2 separate regions of the Homo sapiens genome follow, and region 2 is linked to region 1. Evidence: fine-mapped expression QTL. A gene starts in region 1. The other region holds a variant in brackets. All regions are shown on one strand. Distances are between the middles of the regions.

Evidence for each region.
Region 2: its variant is fine-mapped to the expression of FBXO21 in whole blood (TOPMed, PIP 0.99).

The regions. Positions count from the first base shown.
Region 1 is chr12:117,182,292-117,199,459 of GRCh38, forward strand. FBXO21 (F-box protein 21) reads right to left here and starts at 8,179. Exons shown (of 12, transcript NM_015002.3): 1 at 7,927-8,179; 2 at 6,936-7,071; 3 at 4,186-4,280. The coding sequence starts at 8,165. RefSeq lists an enhancer at 7,306-7,395 and silencers at 7,866-7,915, 8,196-8,295, 8,336-8,395.
Region 2 is chr12:117,256,385-117,264,384 of GRCh38, forward strand. NOS1 (nitric oxide synthase 1) reads right to left here. Exons shown (of 29, transcript NM_000620.5): 13 at 7,505-7,590; 14 at 4,081-4,225; 15 at 2,642-2,746; 16 at 2,013-2,071. Among named protein-coding and RNA genes, the nearest start is that of FBXO21, 70 kb to the left of the region's middle. The variant G/A (reference allele first, on the strand shown) is at 4,557.

The DNA.
Region 1 (17,168 bases):
AAGACCAGCCTGGGAAACATAGTGAGACACTGTCTCTACCAAATAAAAATTAGCCAGGCATGATGGTACATGCCTGTATTCCTAGCTACTCAGGAGGCTGAGGCCAGAGGATCCCCTGAACACAGGATTCAAGGTTACAGTGAGCCATGATTGCACCACTGTACTCCAGCCTGGGCAACAGGATGAAACCCTGTCTCAAAAAAACAAACAGGGCTGGGCGTGGTGGCTCACACCTGTAATCCCAGCACATTGGGAGGCCACAGCAAGAGGATCTTTTTTTTTTTTTTTTTTTTTTTGGACCGAGTCTGTCGCCCAGGCTGGAGTGCAGTGGTGCAATCTCAGCTTACTGCAACCTCAGCCTCCCAGGTTCAAGCAATTCTCCTGTCTCAGCCTCCCGAGTAGCCGGGATTACAGGCGTGTGCCACCATGCCCAGCTAATTTTTGTATTTTTAGTAGAGGCAGGGTTTTACCATGTTGGACAGGCTGGTCTTGAACTCCTGACCTCAAGTGATCAACCCGCCTCGGCCTCTCAAAATGCTGTGATTACAGGCGTGAGCCACCATGCCTGGCTGGGAAGATCTCTTGAGGCCAGGAGTTTAGTAACTGCCTGGGCAACAAAGCAAGACTCCATCTATACAAAAAATAGAAAAAATTAGCCAGGTGTGGTGGCAAGTGCCTGTAGTCCTAACTACTCGGGAGGCTGAGGCAGGAGGGTCACTTGAGCCCAGGGGTTTGAGTCTGCAGTGAGCTATGATTGCGTCACAGCATTCCACCCTGGGTGACAAGAGTGAGACTCTGTTTCTAAAACAAACAATCCTTTTTTAAGGTCAAAATATGTGTGTTGGGTAACCTATTCGTATTTATTTCTAAAAACACTATAATATATGTCTTTACTAGCTATGCATTTTCATCTTTTTTGGGAACCTGATATGTAAAATGGCAGTATCTCATTGCTGTTTAACACTTTTTTTTTTTTGAGACGGAGTTTCACTCTTGTCACCCAGGCTGGAATGCAATGGCGCGATCTCGGCTCACTGCAACCTCTGCCTCCCACGCCTCCCAGGTTCAAGCAATTATCCTGCCTCAGCCTCCCCAGTAGCTGGGATTACAGGCACCTGCCACCATGTCTGGCTAATTTTTGTATTTTTTGTAGAGACAGGGTTTCATCATGTTGGCCAGGCTGGTGTCGAACTCCTGACCTCAGATGATCCAAGGACTTGGCCTCCCAAAGTGCTGGGATTACAGGCGTGAGCCACTGCACCCGGCCTATTTAACACTTTTTGAATAGTGTATTAAAAGTTTTCCGTGATTGTTAGATGTTAGGATTTGTTCTTCTGTGAATGTCATCCTCCTAACCTTTGAACATTTTTCAATATCTCTTGAGTTCTACTGACTTCGTTCATGCTCTCTTGGCCATATAGAAGTGTCTGCTCTTTCACTGTCTCCGCATTGTCCTTCTTGGTTAAGGTGGTCTCCCTTAGACTATACAAAGTCTCCTATTTTCTTGAGGAATGTTCACTGTGATCATTTAAAAATTTCAGTTGTTTCATCCTTTGGAAAAATGTTTGCATATGATGCACGTTTTCCTTTCTTCCAGCTGGATATTCAGTTATGTCCAGTACCATTTCTTTAAAAATCCATTTTTTCCCTCTGAGTTTAAATATATTAAATTATCTTTTATTCTGGGATGCATTTGTCAATTATCCTCTGCTACTGATGCAGCTATTTTTATTGAATCACTGTGCTGTTTGGATTATAAGTAGCTTTATAAGATGGCCTAATATCTAGTGATGCCAGTTTCCCATTATGATTACTGAAAAATTGTTTTCTGGCTCTTCTTGTGAATTTAGTCTTCTGTATATATTTTATGACATCCAAATGAAAGAAAAGAAAAAAGCAAAACAACTCCCCCCTGCTCACCACCCCCAACAAAAATACTTTGTTTGAATCCTAATTGGAATGACACTAGGTTTATAAATTAATTTGGGGAGAACTGACATTTTTTGTGATAGCAAGTCTTCACATTCCAGGACATGCTATCTATTTTATGTCTTTCAATAACATCCTATAGTCTGAACTGGGAAACCCATTCCCAGGACTCTACTGCCTAGAAACATCACTCCTCACAGTGACACAAAATGGAAAAAAAAGTGGTTGTCCATCTATAGGAAAATTATGTAGGCTAGGCACGGTGGCTCACGCCCATAATCTCAGCACTCTGGGAAGCCGAGACCAGCAGATCACGTGACATCAGGAGTTTGAGACCAGCCTGACCAAGAGGGAGAAACACCGTTTCTACTAAAAATACAAAATTAGCTGGGTGTGGTGGTGGGCACCTGTAATCCCAGCTACTCAGGAGGCTGAAGCAGGACAATCTCTTGGACCCAGGAGGCAGAGGTTGCCAAGATCACGCCATTGCACTCCAGCCTGGGCTACAAGAGCGAAATTCCATCTCAAAAAAATAAAAATAAGTAAATAAATTATGTAACATACCACAAAAGAGTAAGTAGACATTAACAATAGTGATTTTGATGTTTTACCCGTTGAAGAGGATGGATTTCCATAAGGTACTGTTGAATGAGAAAAAACAATATAGAAAAGTACCTATTATGTGATCCCAATTTTGTGCAATAATGATCCCTTCCCATACTCATCACTGTCAGCAAGAAGAATGCAACCTGGGCTGTTATCAAGAATTACAGAGGTGGGGGCAGGAAAGGACAATGTAAACAGAGGGAATGGGGAGGAAAAAGGAAACAGCATAAATAAGAGAAAAACCAGGTCTGTACTAAACACCAAACCAAAACAACCAACAAAGTAGGTATGAGGTCCCATTTATGTATTTTAAAGTACATATGCACATTAAAAAACACAAGTCAGCTTTTATTTTTAAGACTGCACAATACTGACTACTAGATCATACTTCAATTCATTTATAGATAAACCAAAATAGAAATGGAAAAATGACCTCTGCATCTGAACTCATCCAAGGCCTAGAATAGTGACACATCTTACCTCTACCCACAGTTGTTCCACTGATAGATATTTCTCTCTCCTAAATCCCCTTTAAAAAACAACATAAATATTTCATGCCTTGTTTGTGAGATATTTCGCAAAGATTCCTTTTAAGGAAGATGTTAAACTAACATTCTTATCTTCCATCACTAGAAAGTTTTCAGAACTTTTAGAACAGAAAGTCTTTTCCACAGGAAAGTTAGGCTGGAAGCCCACTCATCTTTCAGGGAAAAACTGGAAATTAACCTTCACAGCAGAAAATAAAAGGTATATGAAATTTTAAGCAATAACCAAGACATAAGGGGTTCTTCTTGATCAAGTGAGTCCCTAAGTACGCAGTTTTCTGACTGGAAGATAAAAGAAAGGCTCACCCAAAGATCTACAGTGTTCAAAGAACAAAGTAGATTATTTTGTACCGCAATTCAGAAATTGTAAAAAATCATCCATTAAATTAAGACATGCCTAAGAAATTATTATTTTTAAATTAAAAGATTCAATTCATGATAGGCAAATCTGATAGTAAGTGGAGAGGTAATAATGAAGGAAGGATGATTTATATTACCAGAAGGTTTCTTTTTTTTATGAGACGAAGTCTTGCTCTTGTCCCCCAGTCTGGAGTGCAATGGTGCAATCTCGGCTCACTGCAACCTCCACCTCCCGGGTTCAAATGATTCTTCTGCCTCAGCCTCCCGAGTAGCTGGGATTACAGGTGTGTACCACCACACCCAGCTAATTTTTTGTATTTTTTTAAGTAGAGATGGGGTTTCACCACGTTGGCCAGGCTGGTCGCGAACTCCTGACTTCAGGTGATCCGCCCATCTCGGCCTCCCAAAGTGCTGGGATTACAGGCGTGAGCCACCGTGCCTGGCCTATTACCAAAAGGTTTCTAAACAACACAACAGATACAAGGGTCTGGGGCACAGTATTTGACCCATAGTAGTGCTAAACATTAATTCCATTTTCTTTCCAAAAGGATTTTTGTAAGGTTTCTTTATATGTCAATTGTCTTGGTGTATCTACCTAATATACACAGAACTTTTCAAAACTGTAACTATGACAAGGCGTGAAATATTTGGAATCACATATTCCAGGGTTTAGCCACACAGAAATTACAGCAATTTACTCTGGACTTATTAAAGCAAACAAATCCCTGCTAAAGCTATGGCTTACCTTCCTTCCATATTTAGGATACACACCAGTTCATCCTCAAAAAAAATCTCTGGTCCTTCAAGGTTCTCAATGTCACTGAAGCCATTACAAGGAACCTATGAAGAAGACATATACAAGTAGGCCTCAATTATGAGTATTGATGCAACTCTCACTCTCACAAATTTGAGCTGAAATAAAGATGTCCACTACTAAAGACAGTGCTAACAGTTATTCTACACTACCTTGCACTACCAGTCATGGGTAGAAAATAACATAAAGTAACAATAATTTACTGAGGTTTTGTTGTTGTTTGTAATCAATGATGTTTTCATAGACTGGAATTTCTGAAACTGACAACTCACAGTTCTAACGTAAAGAAAACTAGCTCTGGCCGGCCATAGTGGTTCATGACTGTAATCCCAGAACTTTGGGAGGCCAAGGCAGGCAGATAACCTGAGGTAAGGAGTTTGAGACCAGCCTGATCAACGTGGTGAAACCCCATGTCTACTAAAAATACAAAATTAGCCAGGCATGCCTGTAATCCCAGCTACTTGGGAGGCTGAGGCAGGAGAATCACTTGAACCCGGGAGGCGGAGGTTACAGTGAGCCAAGATTGCGCCATTGCACTCCAGCCTGGGCAACAAGAATGAAACTCCGTTTTAAAAAAAATAAAAAGGCGGCGGCGGCAGGTGCAGTGGCTCACGCCTGTAATCCCAGCACTTCGGGAGGCTGAGGTGGGCGGATCACCTGAGGTCAGGAGCTCGAGACCAGCCTGACCAACATAGAGAAACCCCATCTCTACTAAAAATACAAAATTAGCCAGGCGTAGTGGCGCATGCCAGTAATCCCAGCTACTCGGGAGGCTGAGGCAGGAGAATCACTTGAACCTGGGAGGCAGAGGTTGCGGTAAGCTGAGATCACACCATTGCACTCCAGCCTGGGCAACAAGAGTGAAACTCTGTCTCAAAAAAAAAAAAAAAAAAAAAAAAAAGATCTTCTGAGTTTAAAATTCTATGGCTTCTCTCAGTTTTCTTTTTGCAAGTAGCCAGAACATTTCAGGTCAACCTGTGTGCATTCTGAGAACACAGGAACGCCAAGATCCCGGGCCAAAGCAATCACCCACCCACAGATTAATGTTAAGTATGCTCCCGCTGTGTTCAAAGTCCTTGACATACTTCTAATTAAGCAGTGGTACAGGAAAAGGGGGAGCTGAGGAAAAAACACAACAATCCATCATTATTACACAGAGGCACAGACTGTTCAAAACATACACAAAACCAGCTGGACTAGAAATGGAGGTTGCAGGCTCATAGTCCATGACCAACTGCACCAAACATAGCTAGTACCAAAATCTACGTATGTGCAAACACATTCAGATCAGCATTTACAATTTGTGATTATGAATGCTTTTAGCCAGGGCATGGCTTCTCCAAAGTAAAATACAAATTTTGTTTATTCTAACACTAATAAATATTTATAGAAACCAATTACACTAAGGAATGTCTATTTGTATTCTCCATAGGGGAAAACATTCAAATTTGTCCAAAGTTCAAATTTTCCCTTTCAAAACTTGAAAAGCCTTGAAAACATTTCAAATTATTAACTCCATTAACTAACAGTAATTAAAATTAGAGAATCCAAAGGAGTCTTTAGGAAAACAAAAAAGTGAAATAAATCAGATTGGCTCTATTTCTAGAACCCCAACCAGAAATAAATATCGAATAGTTTGTTGAACTCAAAACATTAGTGTGGATTATTTTCCAGAGTTACAAAAAGGGATCAGGGGCAGATACAGAAACTTCCGTGAGGCCAGGCACGGTGGCTCACGCCTGTAATCCCAACACTTTGGTTTGCAGAGGCCGGCGGATCACTTGAGACCAGGTGTTCAAGACCAGCCTGACCAACATGGTGAAACCCCAACTCTACTAAAAATACAAAAATTATCCAGGTATGGTGGCGCATGCCTGTAGTCCCGGCTACTCGGGAGGCTGAGACATGAGAATTGCTCGAGCCCAGGAGTAGGAGGTTGCAGTGAGCTGAGATTGCGCCACTGCACTCCAGCCGGGGAGACAAAGCAAGACTCTGTCTCAAAAAAAGAAAAAAGAAAGAAACTTCCATGAGACATTTTGAGGAAAGAAAAAAAGAAAACAAAACAAAACAAAACAAAAAAAACCCACCATGTATTTCTGCAATACTTAAAAAAAAAAAAAAACCCAAAAACTTTTCAGGGATAATGAATGCAAGACAATTCATTTCAGGGAGTAATAACTCTGATTTATAGGTAGCTTTTAATCCTCTGTTACCTTAACAAATAATGCAGTTCACTACTGGGTAGAACCTGCAAAGCCAGAGAGAAGAACCACATTAATTTCGTCAACCCTTCTGGGAAAACAACCGGGAGAAATTTACAGTGTTCAATCATTGATGATTCCCCAAATAACGGAGGGGTTGCAAAAAAAATCCGTTGAACCCATTTGAGAAATAATGCTGATCTGGACTCCGTCTACATTGTGCTGCGTGGGTCCCTCCCTGCTCCCTCCACCCCCACTCTCTCTCTGGCTTTAGAAAAGTAAAGCTGGCACAGACAAATGGCTTCGTGTTGTTGGATAGGAGGAAAAGGACACAATGACTCTTGCAGCCATCTAAGTGAGTAAGGGATTGTGAGAGCATTGAAAAGGGAGATACGAAAAGAGCTGGATGAGCTCATGCCTGCAGACCCAGACACATACACCAGCAAGCCAAAGCTTAGAGCCACATCAACAGATCCTTACGTGCTCTGAAAAGAACCTCTTTGAGAACGAGGCTACAATCTTCCGCGCTTCTAACCCAGCTTTTTGCCGAACTTTATACTCTTCCAACCAATTGACGTAGTCGGTGGGGCTGTAGTGTTTCATAAGGGAAGGCCACCTACGAGGAGAGAAACACCCCCTCAGCTTAACAGAAACTCAAAGGCAGGCGGCCACGAATCCAAGGCAGCCTTGGAAACAGGGACAGCAGTGGCGTCCAGTGGTAAGAGGGACCCCGGCGAGAGACCTAGTTCAAAACCCCACCAGCATTCACTCACTCACTCCCGGTGTGACCTTGGCGTAGCGGCATGAATGATGTCTCCATTCCCCATCTCTAAAATGGGGACAGTTGTAACAACAACAACAATAATAATAATGACAATGACAGTGAGCACTGATTGAGCGCCTCCTAGGAGCCGGGGCCCTGCGTGCGTGCCTCCCGGACATCATCTAATTTAATAAACACGGTGAAAGGTAGGTCTAATGATCACCACCACTCAAAGTCTATGAACGAGGCTCAAAAAAAGGGAAGTCGCTCCCCCCAAGGTCACAGAGGGAGTGTGCAGGGCCAGATTTCATCCTGGGGCCACGCTGAAATCTGTGCCGTCCACAACCAGCCCGGGGATGCTGCGCCCGCCCGATCGATGCATCACTGGGTCCATGTAAACATTTCAGCCCGAAGTCGGGCACAAAAGAAGCGCGCAAAAGGGACGAGCCGCGCCGCCGCCAGCGTCACCCTTGACGGAGGACCCGGCTGCGAGGCGCTCCTAGATGCGCCATTTGGGGACCCGGGGGTCCGCCTGGCGTGGCCCCGCAGGGTCCGGGGCCTGGAGGCCTTTGTCTGTCTGTCCGCGGGAAGGGGTCCGGGGTGGGGTCCGCGCGCGGGGCGGCCGCGGGGAGCTAGCGGGGCGGCTGCCCGGCCCCGGGGGGCGCGGGGCGGTGGGCGCGCAGCCGGGGCGCGGGGCCGCTGGCTCACCTCACCCGGAACTGCTCCTTCCACACCTTCCCGCTGCTCTGGCACAGCTCGCGCAGCCGCCGGCAGGTGCTGGAGACACGGCCGATGTCGGCGGCCGTCAGCGAGCCGCAGCACAGGATGTACTCCAGCACCTCACCCGGCAGGTTGACGAGGCAGCTGAGGCCCGCTACCTCCGGCGCGGCCTCCTCCGCCAGCGCCGGCACCACCTCCATCGCGCTGTCGACTGCTGCCGCCGCCATCTTGTCCGCGTACCTGGGGCCGCCGCGCGCGCGCGTGCGAGAGTGCCCGGGCGCCCCGCCTGGCCCCGCCTACTGGTCTTGGGGGCGAGTCCTGAGATCGCTCCGCCCATCCGCGGGCCACACCTCCCCTGCATCGGCTGGGGGCTGCGCGGGTGGCAGCGCCGCAAAAGGGAGGACATAATTGGGCTCTGTGCTTGGAGCCGGCAGCGCAAGCCGCCTCTAGTCCGGGACAACAATAGTAGCACTGATTCTTTTAAACGTAATTAATGTTTAAAATTAACAAATAAAAATGGTATCTATTCTCACGCGTGCTGAGCGCTTTCTGTGCGCATTGGACCTTTCCGAATTACCCTGCGAACTTTCTCCCCATATTACAGATGGGGAAACAGGTTCGGAGAGTGAGAGGGCTTGCTCAGGATCCCTTGTCTTGGATTTTTTTTCCCCCTTTGGGAAGGAGTCTTGCTCTCACCCAGGCTGGAGGGCAGTGGCGCTATCTCGGCTCACTGCAACCTCTGCCTCCTGGGTTCAAGCGATTCTCCTGCCTCAGCCTCCCGTGCGGATGGGATTACAGGCGCGCGCCACCACCCAGGTTGGAGTGCAGTGGCCGTGATCTCGGCTCACTGCAACTTCCACCTCCCTGGTTCAAGCAATTATCCTGCGTCAGCCTCCCGAGTAGCTGGGATTACAGGCGCCCGCCACCACAGCCAGCTAATTTTTGTATTTTTAGTAGAGACAGGGTTTCACCATGTTGGTCAGGCTGGTCTCGAACTCCTGACCTCAAATGATCCACCCACCTCGGCCTCCCAAAGTGCTGGGATTACAGGCGTGAGCCACCGCGCCCAGCCCCTTGTCTTGGATTCTATTTCAGATCCACTTGACTTTTGCTTGTCAGTAATCTTAACCATATGATGTAATAATAACAATATTCTTGAGTGGGTGCTATGGGAAGCCCTCTATGATGGTGTAGGGGAGTAATAATAATCCTCAAATGTGTGCCCTGATTTTAGGCTAATAGAGGGCAGGCAGAGAGCTCTCCTGTACTGGTTTCTTAATTGTTTCCAGCTCAACAATCCTTCATATTTGGGGAGCATAGTCTGACCTCCCACAATAGGTACCACAGTTATACCTATTCTACAGAAAAGGCAAAGTTCTTCCAGGTGGCAGTCACTGGTTCAAAGTTACAGAGACAAAAGTGCTAAAGCCTGGATTTGAGTCTTCAAAGCGGGAGTTATCACTCAGGATTGGGAGGGTAGTCTCAGGATCTGCACATTAAAAAAAAAAAATCAGTTTAGTTCAGTGCCAAAGCCCTGTGTTGTGTGCCCTGGGGATACAGGGGTGAGAAAAATGGAGTCTTTGCTTCAAAACCTCAAAGTGCAATTACAGTTAGAAGGATCTGTTGTCAGTACATGGAGGGTCCAATGAAGTACTCCTGGCAACTTGGAAATCAAGATGCCCTGAGAGAGCTGAACTAGTAAAGTGACTCTCAATGGATGGCGTTGAGCCATCTGTGGCTCCCTATTTCCCGTAGAAATGAATGTGACATCCCAAACATTGTTGCAAAGCAACAAACTCCACCTCTTCTTACCTATCTGAAGTCTTTCTCTCTCACTAGCCATGCATACCCCAGCAAGGCTGGTCATCTCTTTCCTCCCATTTCTGGCCCTACATATACTATTCCTGCTGCCTGCAAGGCACTTCATGCAGTCCTCCCCTTCCAGTAGCTCCTCCTCTTCCTCCAGGGCTCAGCTTAACCTTTCCAAATGCTCTCCCTTCCCCCGCCCCAGCACCAGCACCAGATATGGCTCCTGCCCAGCATTTTGCAGTCTTGTAATTACTTAACTTACAACTATTCAACATGCATCTTTCCCACTAAATCTGAAGGGAGTTCAGTGCTAGGACTGTGTCTGAGTCACCTCTAGAAGCCTAGTTACTTGACCCATGCCCTGCACAGAGCAGATTCTCAATTATCTATTGATTGCGATAGTCTAACCAGCTGTTTGACTAGGGAAGTTACTTAGCCTTTCTGAGGCCCAGTTTTTTATCTGTAAAATGGGAATAATAATTAATAATAATAATGCCTGTCTCCTGGGGCTGTCATGAGAATTAAATGAGGAAATTCATGTGAGGGGCATAGAACAGTGGCTGGTATAGAAAAAATCCTTGAGCCGGATGCGGTAGCTCACACCTGTAATCCCAGCACCTTGGGAGGCCAAGGCAGGCAGATCACCTGAGGTCAGGAGTTCGAGACCAGCCTGACCAACATGGTGAAACCCCATCTCTACAAAAATGCAAAAACTAGCCGGGCATGATGCCAGGTGCCTGTAATCCCAGCTACTTGCGAGATTGAGGCAGAAGAATCGCTTGAACCAGGGAGGTGGAGGTTGCAGTGAGCCGAGATCATGCCTTTGCACTCCAGCCTGGGTGACAGAACAAGATGCTGTCTCAGAAAAAACGAAACGAAAAAAAAATTGCTTGACAAAACTGTGTGGGAAGCAGGGAGAAATGGCTCAATGGATATGGGTTTTTTGGTTTGTTTGTTTGTTTTTTGAGGCAGAGTCTCACTCTGTTGCCCACGCTGGAGTGCAATGGCACGATCTCGGCTCCCTGCAACTTTGGCCTCCTGGGTTCAAGAGATTCTTCCGCCTCAGCCTCCCGAGTAGCTGGGATTACAGGAGCATGCCACCATGCCTGGCTAATTTTTGTATTTTTGTAGAGACAGTTTCACCACGTTGGCCAGGCTGGTCTTGAACTCCTGACCTCATGATCTACCTGCCTCGGCCTCCCAAGGTGCTGGGATTACAGGTGTGAGCCATCGTGCCTGGCCTGGATATGGATTTACTTTGGGGTGATGGAAATGTTTTGGAAGTAGATAGAGGTGGTGGTGGTGGTTGCACAGCATTGGGAATATACTAAATGCCACTGAATTGTTCTCTTTAAAATGATTAAATTTTACCAGCATGGCGGCTTAAACCTGTAGTTCCAGTTACTCGGGAGGCTGAGGTGGGAGGATCACTTGAGCCTAGGTGTTCAAGGTTGCAGTGAACTATGACTACACCATTGCACTCCAGCCTGGGTGACAGAGCAAGACAAGACAAAGCCTTTGTGACTCCACTGTCTCCCGGTTCTCCTCTCACCTCTGGGGCTGCACCTTCTCCATCTTCTTTGCAGCCACTCAGATGTTACATGTTGAGGTATCTTGGGCCTCAGCCAGCCCTCTTCTTTCACTATCTTGCCTCTGTCCACAACTCGAATGATGATCCAGATCCAATCGAAATATCCACATTTCTCTCTTCTGCCCCACCCGCTCCTCTGGGATCTAGTCTGGCTTAGCCTGCTCACCTGCCATTCCCTTTGGGCCCTTCAAACTCAACTTATCCAGGAGGAAACTCATGATCTTTCTTCTCCACTTTACCTTGTCTTCTCTTAGTAGTTCCTGCCTTAGGAAGGGCTACTCATTCATCCATTCCTGTAAAACATGAACTTGTCACCATCCTTGCTACCTCTTTCTCCCTCACCATCCATAACCAAATGCCCAACAGAGGTTAATTTCTGTAAGCCTCAGTTTCCTAATCTATAAAACAGGGATAAAAATCTATCTTGCTATTAAATAAGACATATACATCAGTTAGTATTGCTGTGTAACAAATAAACCCAAATTTAGTGACTGCTCTGTTTTTGGCAATGTGGGTACAAAGGTGAACAGGGTAAAGTCACAAATGCCCTGGTCACAGAGCCGAGATATTAGCATAGGTGACAGCGGATACCGCCAATACTATCAGGACTCATCAGTGCTATCCTTAGGCAGTGATAAGTACTGGGAAGAAAGAGATAAAACAGAGGAAGAATATGGAGAATGTGGACAGTGGCAGTCTCCTTTTTCTTTTCTCTTTCTTTTTATTTTCTTCTTTCTTTCTGTCGTCTCTCTCTCTCTTTCCTTCTTCTTTCTTTTTTCTTTTCTTTTCTTTTTTTTCTTTTTTTTTTTTTTGAGACAGAGTTTTGCTCCTGTCACCCAGGCTGGAGTGAAGTGGCATGATCTCTGCTCACTGCAACCTTCACCTCCCGGGTTCAAGAGATTCTCCTGCCTCAGCCCTCCAAGTAGCTGGAATTGCAGACATGTGCCACCACATCCAGCTAATTTTGTATTTTTAGTAGAGATGGGGTTTCACCATGTTGGCCAGGCTGGTCTTGAACTCCTGACCTCAGGTGATCCACCCACTTCGGCCTCCCAAAGTGCCGAGATTACAGACGTGAGCCACCATGCCTGGCTGGCTTTTTTTCTTTCTTTCTTTCTTTCTTTCTTTCTTTCTTTCTTTCTTTCTTTCTTTCTTTCTTTCCTTCTTTTTTCTTTCTTTCTTTCTTTCCTTCTTTTTTCTTTCTTTCTTTCCCTTCCTTCCTTCCTCTCTCTCTTTTCTTTGTTTCTTTCTTTTTTCTTTATTATTTTTTGAGATGGAGTTTCGCTCCTGTTGCCCAGGCTGGAGTGCAATGGCCGGATCTTGGCTCACTGCAACCTCCGCCTCCCGGGGTTCAAGTGATTCTCCTGCCTCAGCCTCCCAAGTAGCTGGGATAACAGGCATACACCACCACACCTGGCTAATTTTGTGTTTTTAGTAGAGATGGGATTTCTCCATGTTGGTCAGGCTGGTCTCGAATTCCCGACCTCAGGTGATTCGCCCACCTCAGCCTCCCAAAGTGCTGGGATTACAGGCATGAGTCACCGCGCCCGGCCTCTTTTTTTTTTTTTTTTTTTTGAGAGAGAGTTTCACTCTGTCATCCAGGTTAGAGTACAGTGGCGTCATCTCGGCTCACAGCAACTTCTGCCTCCTGGACTCAAGCCAGCCTCCCACCTTAGGCTCCTGAGTAGCTGGGGCTGCAGGCACACACCACCAAGCCCGACTAATTTTTGCATTTTTTTTTTGTAGAGATGGGGTTTCACCATGTTGTGCAGGCTGGTCTCCAATTCCTGAACTCCCGCCTCGGCTTCCCAAAGTGCTGGAATTACGGGTGTGAGCCATGGCGCCCAGCCTTCTTTTTCTTTCATTTTAACTTAAATTGTTTTCCTTGATTTATATTTGCAATATGAAATAGAAGCTTGGCACAAACACACACTCATGCCAGCCTGGGGAGAGAGGGCTAGGGACAAGATCACTTGGCAGCAGGGCTGGTACCCCAGATGCTTAGTTAGGATGGCAGGAGGGGGATCCCGAACCCTCACCCAGCCCCTCCTACCCTGGGGTCCATGAAATGTACAGAAGGGGAGAAGGAAGTATGGGATGTTGGTGAGAGTGTCCAGGGCCCGGTGGGATTGTATGAAAGAATGGCGCACACACAAAAGATTTACATACCTATCAAAGGGACAGAAGATATAATTACAAACACAAATTTTCTCAAGGAAATTCTCCAAGAAAGGAAGAAGGGAATGAGTCTCTTTCCTTTTTGGCATAGGGAAAACTCTGTTTTTAAATTTCCCCTAGGATACCCTTTTGCTGAACTGGCCTCACGCCCTGACTATATCCAGCTGGTCCCCTCAACCCTAATTGAACCTAATTGGGGTCCTCTTGGCCTGCACAGCAAAGCCAAACACTGACATTGGGATTGCAGTGAGGGAAAGTGAGGCATTTATTGCAGGGCCCCAATCAAGGAGAATTGGGGAGCTCATGGTTTAAGACTCAAACTCCCTGATGGCTTACAGGTAAGAGTTTTTTAGTTTGTTTGTTTGAGACGGAGTCTTGCTCTGTTGCTCAGGCTGGAGTGCAATGGCACTATCTCAGCTCACTGTAACAACCTCTGCCTCCCAGGTTCAAGCGATTCTCTTGCTTCTCAGCCTCCTGAGTAGCTGGGATTACAGGCATGCACCACCACACCTGGCTAATTTTTGTATTTTTAGTAGAGGCAGGGTTTCATGATGTTGACCAGGCTGGTGTTGAACTCCTGACCTCAGGTGATCCACCTGCCTCGGCCTCCCAAAGTGCTGGAATTACAGGCGTGAGCCACCGTGCCTGCCCACAGGTAAGAGTTTTTAAAGGCAAGGAGGCAGAGGTTACAGGCAAAGCCATAAATCAATTACATGGAGGCTATCCATTGGTTTGACCTAAAAAGGCGGGACATTTGGAAGCAGAGGCCCACAGGTCATAGGTAGATTCAAAGGTTTTTTGTTGTTGTGTTTTTTGTTTTTTGTTTTTTTGAGACACAGTCTCACTCTGTCGCCAGGCTGGAGTGCAGTGGCACGATTTCAGCTCACTTCTACCTCTGCCTCCTGGGTTCAAGTGATTCTCCTGCCTCAGTCTCTGTAGCTGGGACTACAGGCGCACGCCACCACACCCAGCTAATTTTTTGCATTTTTAGTAGAGACGGGGTTTCACCATGTTGGTCAAGATGGTCTCGATCTCTTGACCTTGTGAGCCGCCCGCTTTGGCCTCCCAAAGTGCTGGGATTACAGGCGTTAGCCACTGTGCAGGGCCCTGGATTCAAAGATTTTTTGACTTGTATTTGGTTAAGGAGGTGAAGCTTTGTCTAAAAAAATTGAGATTTGCAGTAAAGAATGTTAGCTCTGGCTGGTAGCCGTGATCTCCTCTAGACCCCACAGGAAGAAATTTAGAACAAAAAACAGTGGTCAGGGTTCGGTCCTCAGTTTCTCTTTATGTGAGGTCTACGGCCAGTGGGTCTGTTTGGTGGGGGTCTGGGATCCTGAAAAACAACCCACAGACGTGTGTTAAGACACTATCCTTAGTTTCTGTAAGCGAACCAGACATCCCATGATTCTAACTTTCTTGCTAGTGTTTTGAGCTACTATTACCTTCTTGCTTATCAAGTCACTCATTTACTTCTCAGCAAGGTGCCTGGAATTACTAGCGAGGTGCCTGGAATTTCCCTTGAAGGAACTCAAAATTTTTCTTCATTTCCATGCTTGGGAGTTCCTGCTCTATCCCACAGTCCCTGCTAAAATCACCCTGCACAAACTCAAATCCTAGAATAAGTCCCTCTGGGATCCCTCCTCCCTGGCTTCCCAGTGGTCCTCTAGGGTGGCCTCTCCCTTGCTGCAGCAAGGTAAAAACTTATCTTTGTTGGACTACAGATGAATTTCTCGTTATTTTTGGCTGGCGAGGTCAACACCCCTCTCCAGTGAAATCTCCACAATCTAGCCGCAGATACCATTTCAACTACCCTCAACACTGTCCACACCTGTTTTGCCAAGATCCAAGCTCCCATTCTTTCTGTAATTTTAAGATGTTAATAAGTTTCCAAACTCCATGGCAGCGGGGAGGTGAGTAATCTTTTGGTGGGCCTCTTCCGTGTGCATGTTCATAAATTTGTATGCCCATTCTCTCTTTCTCTCTCTTTTTGTTTTGGAGACAGGGTCTTGCTCTGTTGACCAGACTGGAGTGCAGTAGAGCAGTAATAGCTCACTGCAGCCTTGAACTTCTGGGATGAAGCCATCCTCCTGGCTCAGCCTCCCAAGTAACTGGGACTACACGTGTGTGCCACCATGCCTGGCTATTTTATTTTTTGAGATAGAGTTTCGCTCTTGTTGCCCAGACTGGAGTGCAGTGGTGTGATCTTGGCTCACTGCAACCTCCACCTCTTGGGTTCAAGCAATCCTCCTGCCTCAGCCTCCTGAGTAGCTGGGATTACAGATGTCTGCCACCACACCCAGCTAATTTTTTTGTATTTTTAGTAGAGACGGGGTTTCACCATGTTGGCCAGGCTGATCTTGAACTCCTGACCTCAGGTGATCCAGCTGCTTCGGCCTCCCAAAATGCTGGGATTACAGGCGTGAGCCATCGCGCCTGGCCTATGCCTGGCTATTTAAAAAAAAATTTTTATAGAGATGGGAGCTTGCACTGTTGCCCAGGCTGGTTTTGAATACCTGGCTTCAAGCAATCCTCCTGCCTTGGCCTCCCAAAGGCCTTTTCTCTTATTAATCTGCCTTTTGTGAGTTGATTTTTCAGTGAAACTTCTGAGGGCAAAGGGGAAGTTTCCCTTAGTCCCTACAGTGTTCCTTGTCCTCATAATTAGTACTTACATCCTTTCTTTTCTGGTCCACTTCTCTGCCCACCTGAGGGCCTTTGCTGATACGGTTCCTTTTCCCAGGAGTGCCTCCTCAGCCACACCTACTCATCTTTCAGATTTCTGCTCAAGTGCTCCTCTGTAGGAACACAAGTCCATGAACCCAGGCTAGGCAAGCTCCTTCTGCCTTGTGCCTTCTCAGAACCCTATGCCTTTCATTCAGTACACACTCACAAACTGTAGGAATGCATACATGGCCATGATTACTAGATTCACCCTCCCGCAGGGGCAGATCTGGGTTTAGTGGAGCCCGGAGCTTACGCTGTTTGGAGGCCCTATTTTATTGTATTTTATTTTAAGACGGAGTCTTGCTCTGTTGCCTAGGCTAGACTGTAAGTCTCGCTCTGTAGCCCAGGCTGGAGTGCAATGGCGTGATCTTGGCTTACTGCAACCTCCGCCTCCCAGGTTTAAGCGATTCTCTCACCTCAGCCTCCCAAGTAGCTGGGACTATAGGCACACATCATCATGCCCAACTAATTTTTATATTTTTGGTAGAGATGGTGTTTCACCATGTTGGCCAGACTGGTCTCAAACTCCTGACCTCAAGTGATCTGCCTGCCTCGGTCTCCCAAAGTGCTGGGATTACAGGTGTGCGCCATCACACCTGGCCTGGAGGCCCTGTTTTAGAAAAGAGATACACAAGGATGAATTCACAAGTACACAAGAGTACTAGAAAGAGTATGTAGAATGAGAAAATAAGTGGCCTTGGAAGGGAGGGATCTTTCCAAGGGAGGGGCCTTAAAGTTAAGCTTCATCACTTCCATCAAATCTCTTTCTATAATATAGCAACTGGCTGGGCACAGTGGCTCACGCCTGTAATGCCAGCATTCTGAGAGGCCGAGGTGGGTGGATCACCTGAGGTCAGGAGTTCAAGGCCAACCTTGCCAACATGGTGAAACCCTGTCTCTACTAAAAAATACCAAAAAAAAAAAAAAAAAA
Region 2 (8,000 bases), 70 kb after region 1:
TCTCCTGCCTCAGCCTCCTGAGTAGCTGGGATTACAGGTGCACTCCACCATGGCCAGCTAATTTTTATGTTTTTAGTAGAGACGGGTTTCACCATGTTGGCCAGGCTGGTCTCGAACTCCTGACCTTAGGTGATCCTCTCGCCTCAGCCTCCCAAAATGCTGGGATTACAGGCATGAGCCACTGTGTCTGGCCTCAGAAGGGATTTTCTGCTTAACACAGCCAAAAAACACCAGCCAGCTAGAGCATTTGATGTTCACCTTAAGACACAGGGATCTGCTTGCTCCATGCTGGAGCAAATACTGAGTTGGCCTCATGGAAAGGCAGCTCAGCGTGCACACACCATGTGTCCTATACCTTATGGGGGATGCAAGGGCTTTTCAAGGGTCATTAACAAAAATTTTTTTGTCATGGTGCGGTGGCTCAGGCCTGTAATCCCAGCACTTTGGGAGGCTGAGGCAGGCAGATCACCTGAGGTCAGGAGTTCGAGACCAGCCTGGCAAACATGGTGAAAGCCTGTCTCTACTAAAAATACAAAAATTAGCCAGGCATGGTGGTGTGTGCCTGTAATCCCACCTACTCGGGAGGCTGAGGCTGCAGAGTCGCTTGAACCCAGGAGGCGGAGGTTGCAGTGAGCTGAGATCGTGCCATTGCACTCCAGCCTTGGTGATAACAGCGAAACTTCATCTCAAAAAAAATTTTTTTATTTTTATTTTTTAGAGACAGGGTCTTGCTCTGTTGTCTAGGCTGGGGTGCCGTGGTATAATTATGGCTCACTGTAGCCTCAAGCCCCTGAGCTCAAGTGATCCTCCTGCCTCAGCCTCTGGAGTAGCTGGGACTTCAGGTGCACACTACCATGCCCAGCTAATTTTTAATTTTTTTGTAGAGATGGGATCTTGCTATATTGCCCAGGCTGGTTTGAACTCCTGGCCTCAAGCAATCCTCCTGCCTCAGCCTCCCAAAGCACTAGGATTATAGGCATGAGCCACCGTGCCCAGCCATCAATGGTAAGTTTGATTAGATGCTTTTTTACTTTACCAAATACCTTTAGAACTCAATCCCACATTAGATGCGGTTCCATTACAAACATATTTTTGACTACAGGTATGTTTTGTCTTACAAGGTATCTTATCTTTTGAACTCAACTTCTAGATTAGCTGCAACTTCACTGTGAGCATCAGACAGGAAGCTTTTAAGGAAAGAAGTTCCATTCTTTGATTTTAGCTTTTTTTTTTTTTTTTTTTTTTTTTGACAGGTCTGGCTGTTCAGGCTGGCCTCAAATTCCTGGGGCCAAGTGATCCTTCTGGCTCAGCCTCCAGAGTAGCTGAGACTATAGGTGTGCACTACCATGCCTGACTGCCTTGCACTGATTTTGAATGTAGGTTCTCAAAGAGGGAAAAAGAATAATATTTACACAGTGCTTTTTTTTTTTTTTTTTTGAGATGGAGTTTTGCTCTTGTTGCCCAGGCTGGAGTGCAATGGTGCGATCTTGGCTCACTGCAACCTCCTCCTCCCAGGTTCAAGCGATTCTCCCGCCTCAGCCTCCCGAGTAGCTGGGATTACATACATGCGCCACCACGCCCGCCTAATTTTTGTATTATTAGTAGAGATGGGGTTTCACCATGTTGGCCAGGCTGGTCTCGAACTCCTGACCTTGTGATCCATCTGCCTCGGCCTCCCAAAGTGCCGGGATTACAGGCGTGAGCCACCACGCCCAGCACACAGTGCTTTTACATCTAGTTTGTGATTTGATTCTTACTAATTAGAAAGTCAAGGTAGGTGCTATAATCTCTATTTGATAGAAAAGGAAACTGAGGCACAAGGCTGTGAAGTGACCCAGATACCAAAATATTTGCCCCAGTAGACTGCAGACACCTCACAACTAAGACCCATTACAAATGGACTTCAGATTACAGCCACCATCCAGAACTCAAATGTGAACCCCAGGTGCCAAAAGTCAATGTCCAGTTACCCTCGGGGGTGGCGGGTGACGTCGGAGGGGTCATTCACTTACTTCCTTTCTTCCTGCACAGAGTTGGGGTGCCTCATTTCCATCAAAGCACAGCCGAATTTCTGGAAGCCAAAACATATGGGTGAAATTAGCACATCTTAGTAAATGGGAAATCAGGTCGGATACTGAGGGTCTGGGGTCCTGGCTGTCAAAGAGGAGACTGATGCCCGGAGGCCAGGATGTCAGGAGCGGTCAGGGGCTCAGGCTGGACAGTAATGCCTGGGCTACAGACGCAGTGGATACACCTGCTGTTTAAATGACTACAGGTGTGGACTCCCTACCCCCAGCACACAACTTCCCGTTGGAGCCTTCCTTCTATAAAAATATTGTCCCCATGTTCCTCATCTACATCAGGGAACATCAAGCTAATGATAGGAGCAGCCACTGCAAACAAATAGCTCACTTAGGTGACAATATTTTCACCAGGGACTTGCTAACTAATGGACGCCAGTAGACTGAGTACTTGGAATTGTCCAACCTTTGTATAACTTGGATCCAAATGGAAATTACTGGCTTTCAGGCTCTGGGAGGGTTTGCTACTGAATAGCAGGTGTAGGAAGAGTCTCAACCTTGGCCCCTACTTCTTCCTGATGATGGAACCACACTCTTGAACAGGTAAAAGCTCATCTCACCTCCCCATTCTCAGGGGGATCTCCATTGCCAAAGGTGCTGGTGACCACAAGGACCAGAGTTTCATGTTCCAGGTGCACAATGTCATATTCTTCCATGGACATCACCTAGGTGGGCAGGGCACAGGTATAGGATGGGGAGAGGAAGAAGGGGATGAGGAGAGAAAAGAGGTGGGAGAGACAAAAAGTGATGGGGGAAGGGCAAGAGGAGAGAAAGGAAAAATGTGAGTCATTTTGGGTCATCTCCTTTGGAAGGAGAACCAAAAGATCTGAGGTGTTAGTACTTCAGTGGGCTCAAGTGGGTAGAACTAAACGCTTTTTGGTAGCGTGGGACCTTGCTATGGTCACTGTGGCCTGAAGGGTTGTGGAGAATCTGAAGCAATGGTTCAAGGGATTGGCAGATACTAGAAACACAGCTTGATGGAATCCCATGGGATTCTTATAGTCAATTGGTCTTGGATTCTTCCTGACCCCAGTTAGGCCGGGAATGATCTGGCTAGAGCTGACTAAGTCTTCTCAACCTCCTCTCTAATCCTCCCCCGAGCAGTGTGGAGCACCTGGCCAAACAAGTCTGAGATATCTGCCTTCTGGAAAGATGATTGCCCTGTGTCTCATCATCGTCTGAGCAACATTTCTCAAAATAGGTTCTAGAAAATCCCAGTCTCCTGAGATGCTCCATGAAAACAAGCGATCCACGATCAAACATGTTTGGGAAACGTCTATATTCTATCCTCGCCTCTTTTGGAGATTAGAACACATGCTTATAGATTACAGGCTCTGGGAAGTCCTGCCACAGCAATGAAAACCATCGAGCTGGCCGGGTGCGGTGGCTCACGCCTGTAATCCCAGCACTTTGGGAGGCCGAGGCGGGCGAATCAAGAGGTCAGGAGATCGAGACCATCCTGGCTAACACAGTGAAGCCCCGTCTCTACTAAAAACACAAAAAATTAGCCGAACGTGGTGGTGGGCGCCTGCAGTCCCAGCTACTCGGGAGGCTGAGGCAGAAGAATGGCGTGAACCCGGGAGGTGGAGCTTGCAGTGAGCCGAGATCGCGCCACTGCACTCCAGCCTGGGTGACAGAGTGAAACTCCTTCTCAAAAAAAAAAAAAAACAAAAAACAAAAAAACAAAAAAACAAAACCAAAAAACCATCGAGCTGTACTTCAGGCAAAGCTTCCCAAACTGACCTCAGAATGGTTTCTTATAAACCCTCTAACATTTTGCTCTAAAGAGGGGAATTTCATTTTGTGACTCCTGGACTCATGGGGACAGGGATATCACAGTCCCCTGAAATTTATGCAAATGTGTATGTGAGCTGATAGGCCCTGTCAGGTGTGCTTTCATCCTTTGCCAAAGGCTTCTTCTCTGTTGACTTCCCTCTCTCCCCTTCCTGCCTTAATTCACCATGAGAAGCTGGTGGAGCTAGGGCTACCCCCCACCTACCTTGGCATCAAAGGCGTGTTTGAAGATCTCACACAAGGTCTTGGCATAAGCTTGCGATTTGCCTGTCTCTGTGGCATAGAGGATGGTCGCTTTCACCCTCTTGGCCATAGCCTGCCCCATCAGCTTGGCCGAGAACTTGACAGCTCTGGAGGGAAGAGGATGGAGATGAAAAATGGGCAACAGAAAAGGGGAGAGAAGATGCTGGATTGGGACTTTCGTGCAAGAACCAGGATCCATGAAATATAACAGAAGAGAACTCTCTTGATCTTTGATGGCTTCAGGGGTTTCCTCAGAGGCACTTGAAGTCTTTGTGTTTAAGCACCGTATTATTAAAGTATTATTAAATCCTTTATTTTATTTTATTTTTTAACTTCTCTAGAGATAATGCTGGATATTAAATCCTTTATTAAATCCCACCAGAGGCCGGGTGTGGTAGCTCATGCTTATAATCCCAGCACTTTGGGAGGCCGAGGCAG[G/A]TGGATTGCCTGAGCTCAGGAATTTGCCACCAGCCTGGGCAACAAGGTGAAACTCCGTCTCTACTAAAATACAAAAAAATTAGCCGGGAGTGGCAGCGTGCGCCTGTAGTCCCAGCTACTTGGGAGGCTAAGGCAAGAGAATTGCTTGAACCCAGGAGGTGGAGGTTGCAGTGAGCCGAGATCGCACCACTGGGCACCACTGCACTCCAGCCTGGGCGACAGAGTGAGACTCTGCCTCAAAAAAAAAAAAAAAAAAAAAAAAAAATCCCACCAGAGCAATTAGTCATGAATTAAAAGGAGTAGTTAGTTTTGTTAGCTTGTTACTTGATTGATCCCAGGCTTAAGAACCTTGGTTTGCCAAGCATTGCCTCAAAAGATGATCGTTCATCCATTTCCTCTCTCTTTCATTCATCAAATATTTATTAAGTGCTTAACTATGTGTCAGTATTGTTATAGGAAATGGAGACCACAGAGAACATAGCTATGGAATGCAGCTGTCATAGGGCTCATATTCTAATGTGTGTGTGTATGCACATGTGTGAATGAGAGAAAGAGAGAGAGAAATGAATCACGAATTAGTCACCAGGCATTGAGTTTGATGGGATTTAGAGGTTTATTGGTCCACAAGGGAAGGACCAGGTCTGATTTATTCAGCAATGCATGTCAAGGGTCTTGCACAGAGCCTGATACCCAACAGGCACTAAATAAATATCTATCAAAAGAAGTTATGGGATGGGCATAGTGGCTCATGCCTGTGATCCTGGCACTTTGGGAGGCTGAGGCGGGAGGATCACTTGAGGCCAAGGGTTTGAAACCAGCTTGGTCAACAGAGTGAGACTTTGTCTCTACAAAAAAGAAATAAAAGAAGTTATGAATTTTAAAAGATGCTGCCACTGAGACCCTGGGAAGTCTGAACATCAAATCCAGCCTCTTTCTAACTAAACAGAGAAGCCCAAACCAGTGTCTCTTCCTTCTGCTCTACTGGGCAGGGCGAGTTCCAGGGGCACTAGCAGACAGGCCAGAGGCTCAGAAATACCCAGGCTCGACTCCTTAACAAGCCTCCCTGTTGTAACTAGAAATCTCAGTGCAGACAAATCGCTAACTTCCCCCCACCTGGGATTATCGGCGTTAAGTTCATTATTTTTTAGAATCAGGGAAACCGCCCACGATGCAGGAAGACTTAGCTAAGGGGAAGAAACAGAAAGGAATAAAAGGTACCTGGAGGGTTCCCTTTGAATAATTTGAGCATAAAGATGCATCTATAATTAATTCCCATTGTTACTACCCAAAACTTAATAGTGTAATTAATGTTTTAGATTTCTCCCTCCCCTTTCCCCCCAGAGACAGTGGAGCTGAACTGAAGCCAACAATTGCCCTCCCTGAGAATATCTGAGATATTCTTGTTAGGGAAATGGTGGCTGCTGATGTGTTCTTGCTTGGCTGGGGGATGGGATTAGGGTGGAAGGAGAGAGAGGGAGGGAGGGAGGGAGAGAGAGAGAGAGAGAGACAGAGAGAGGAGAGGGAGGGAGGGAGAGAAAGGGGGAGGGGGAGAGAGAGAGAGAGAGAAGAGAGAGGAGAGAGAGAGAGAGAGAGATTGATTGATTCTATGGGCTCTATTAATGGAGCCAGGACCTAGGTTTGGGTCCCTGCAAGACCCACCAGTGTCTTGTCTCTGGGGCCCATGGCTTAGATGACACCTGTTGTACAACTAGTTATCATACATAGAGAATTCTGGACCTGAGGGAGCTGAGGAAACAGAGTAGTGTCTTCTGACAAAAAGTTAGCTCCAAACAGTGGTCTTTGGTAAGTGGATCAGTGGGGTTCTCTTTTTTTTGGGGCAGAAGGCTGGCATCCCCGTTAAATCAACTTAGTTAACCCCATCCTACTTGTCAGCTGGTCCTCTGGCTGGTCAGGCATTCTTCAGGAAAATCACTCCTCAGTAGTCTCAGGCCATAACCCCCTTCCTTCCCCTCTTTGCTTAAACTTTCTTAATCTCATTCTTTAGCTCAATTGTCACCTCCTCCAGGAAGCCCTCCCTGACCTCCCAAACTCCGTGAACCATTATTATTTCCAGGAACCATTCCTCGATGGTACCTTCCACAGCTGCCATGTTTACTGTATTTGTTGATTCTTTGACAAAGGAATGGCTGTGAGCTTCATGACAGCAGGGACAGCATTTGTCTAGCTTGCCATGATCCCCCTGAAGCCTCACACAGTGCCTGGCACAGAATCTGAGTAGCTAGAACTACAGGCGTGTGCTGCGACACCCAACTAATGAATGAATGAATGAGTAAATGAATGAATGAGTAAAATTAAGGGTCAGCCCTGAACGAGGGTGCTCTCCAGGCAGTAGTGTGCTGGAGCTGACTAACTCCAGCTCCTCCCTAGTCTGGGTTCAGTGACTTCCTAGGCCAGGTGTAGTGGCTCACACCTGTAATCCTAGCACTTTGGGAGGCTGAGGCAGGAGGATCGCTTGAGGCCAGGTGTTCGAGACTAGCCTGTGCAACAAAGTGAGACGCCTCCAGCCTGGGGAACAGACCCTATCTCAAAAAAGAAAGAAAGAAAGAAAAGAAATTGGTCATAGTGGGAATGTTTACATCATGGAAACTGGCAAACATGAAAATCAAGGTATTACTATTATTATTATTATTATTATTATTATTATTATTATTATTATTATTAGGAGGGCTGGTTCACCAACACACCATTGCCCCCAGGACAAGAATTTAGGAAACCAGTGTGAGGAAAGTGAGGCTGAGAAGGAGAAGAGTTGGAACGACATTCACAGCTCAGACTCAGAGGCAAAGAAGGCCCAGGTGGCTGAAGAAGATGAAGAAATCATATTCTGTAGAGAGGTCAGAGGGCACAGGAGTCTGCCCAGCCTCCTTCTCTGGGTTCTCTGAGTTTGTGGGGACATCCACCCCACCCGCCCACTGCACGAAACTTACTCTGCTAGCTTCTTGAAGCCAATGGCTCGCCGCTTTGTGGGGGTCCCGTTGGTGCCTTTCCAGACATGCGTGTTCCAGGGATCAGGCTGGGAAGAGAAGGAGAGGGCTATGGTCACTCACTGCAGTGAGGGCATCTGGTTCCTGTTGGGGATGCTCAGGACCACCTGGGACTTGTGACTGCCTGACCCTCGGCCTCTGAAGGGAAGAATTCTGCCCAGTGGTGACCACCATGGGGGAAGGGATGCGGGGTTGGGGGGAGGGGGGGGGTCCTTGCCCAGTGGGTGGTCTGGCCTTGGCAGTGTCCTGCTAGCTCTTTCCCCTTGGCCCCCAGTCCCTCTCAAACTCTGTTCTTGTGACCCCTGACTACTCACTCTCATTTCATCCCTCTTTCTCTCTCTTAAGAGACAGGGGTCTCACTCTGCTGCCCAGGCAGGAGTGCAGTGGTGTGATCATAGCTCACTGCAGCCTTGACCTCCCTAGCTCAAGGGATCCTCCT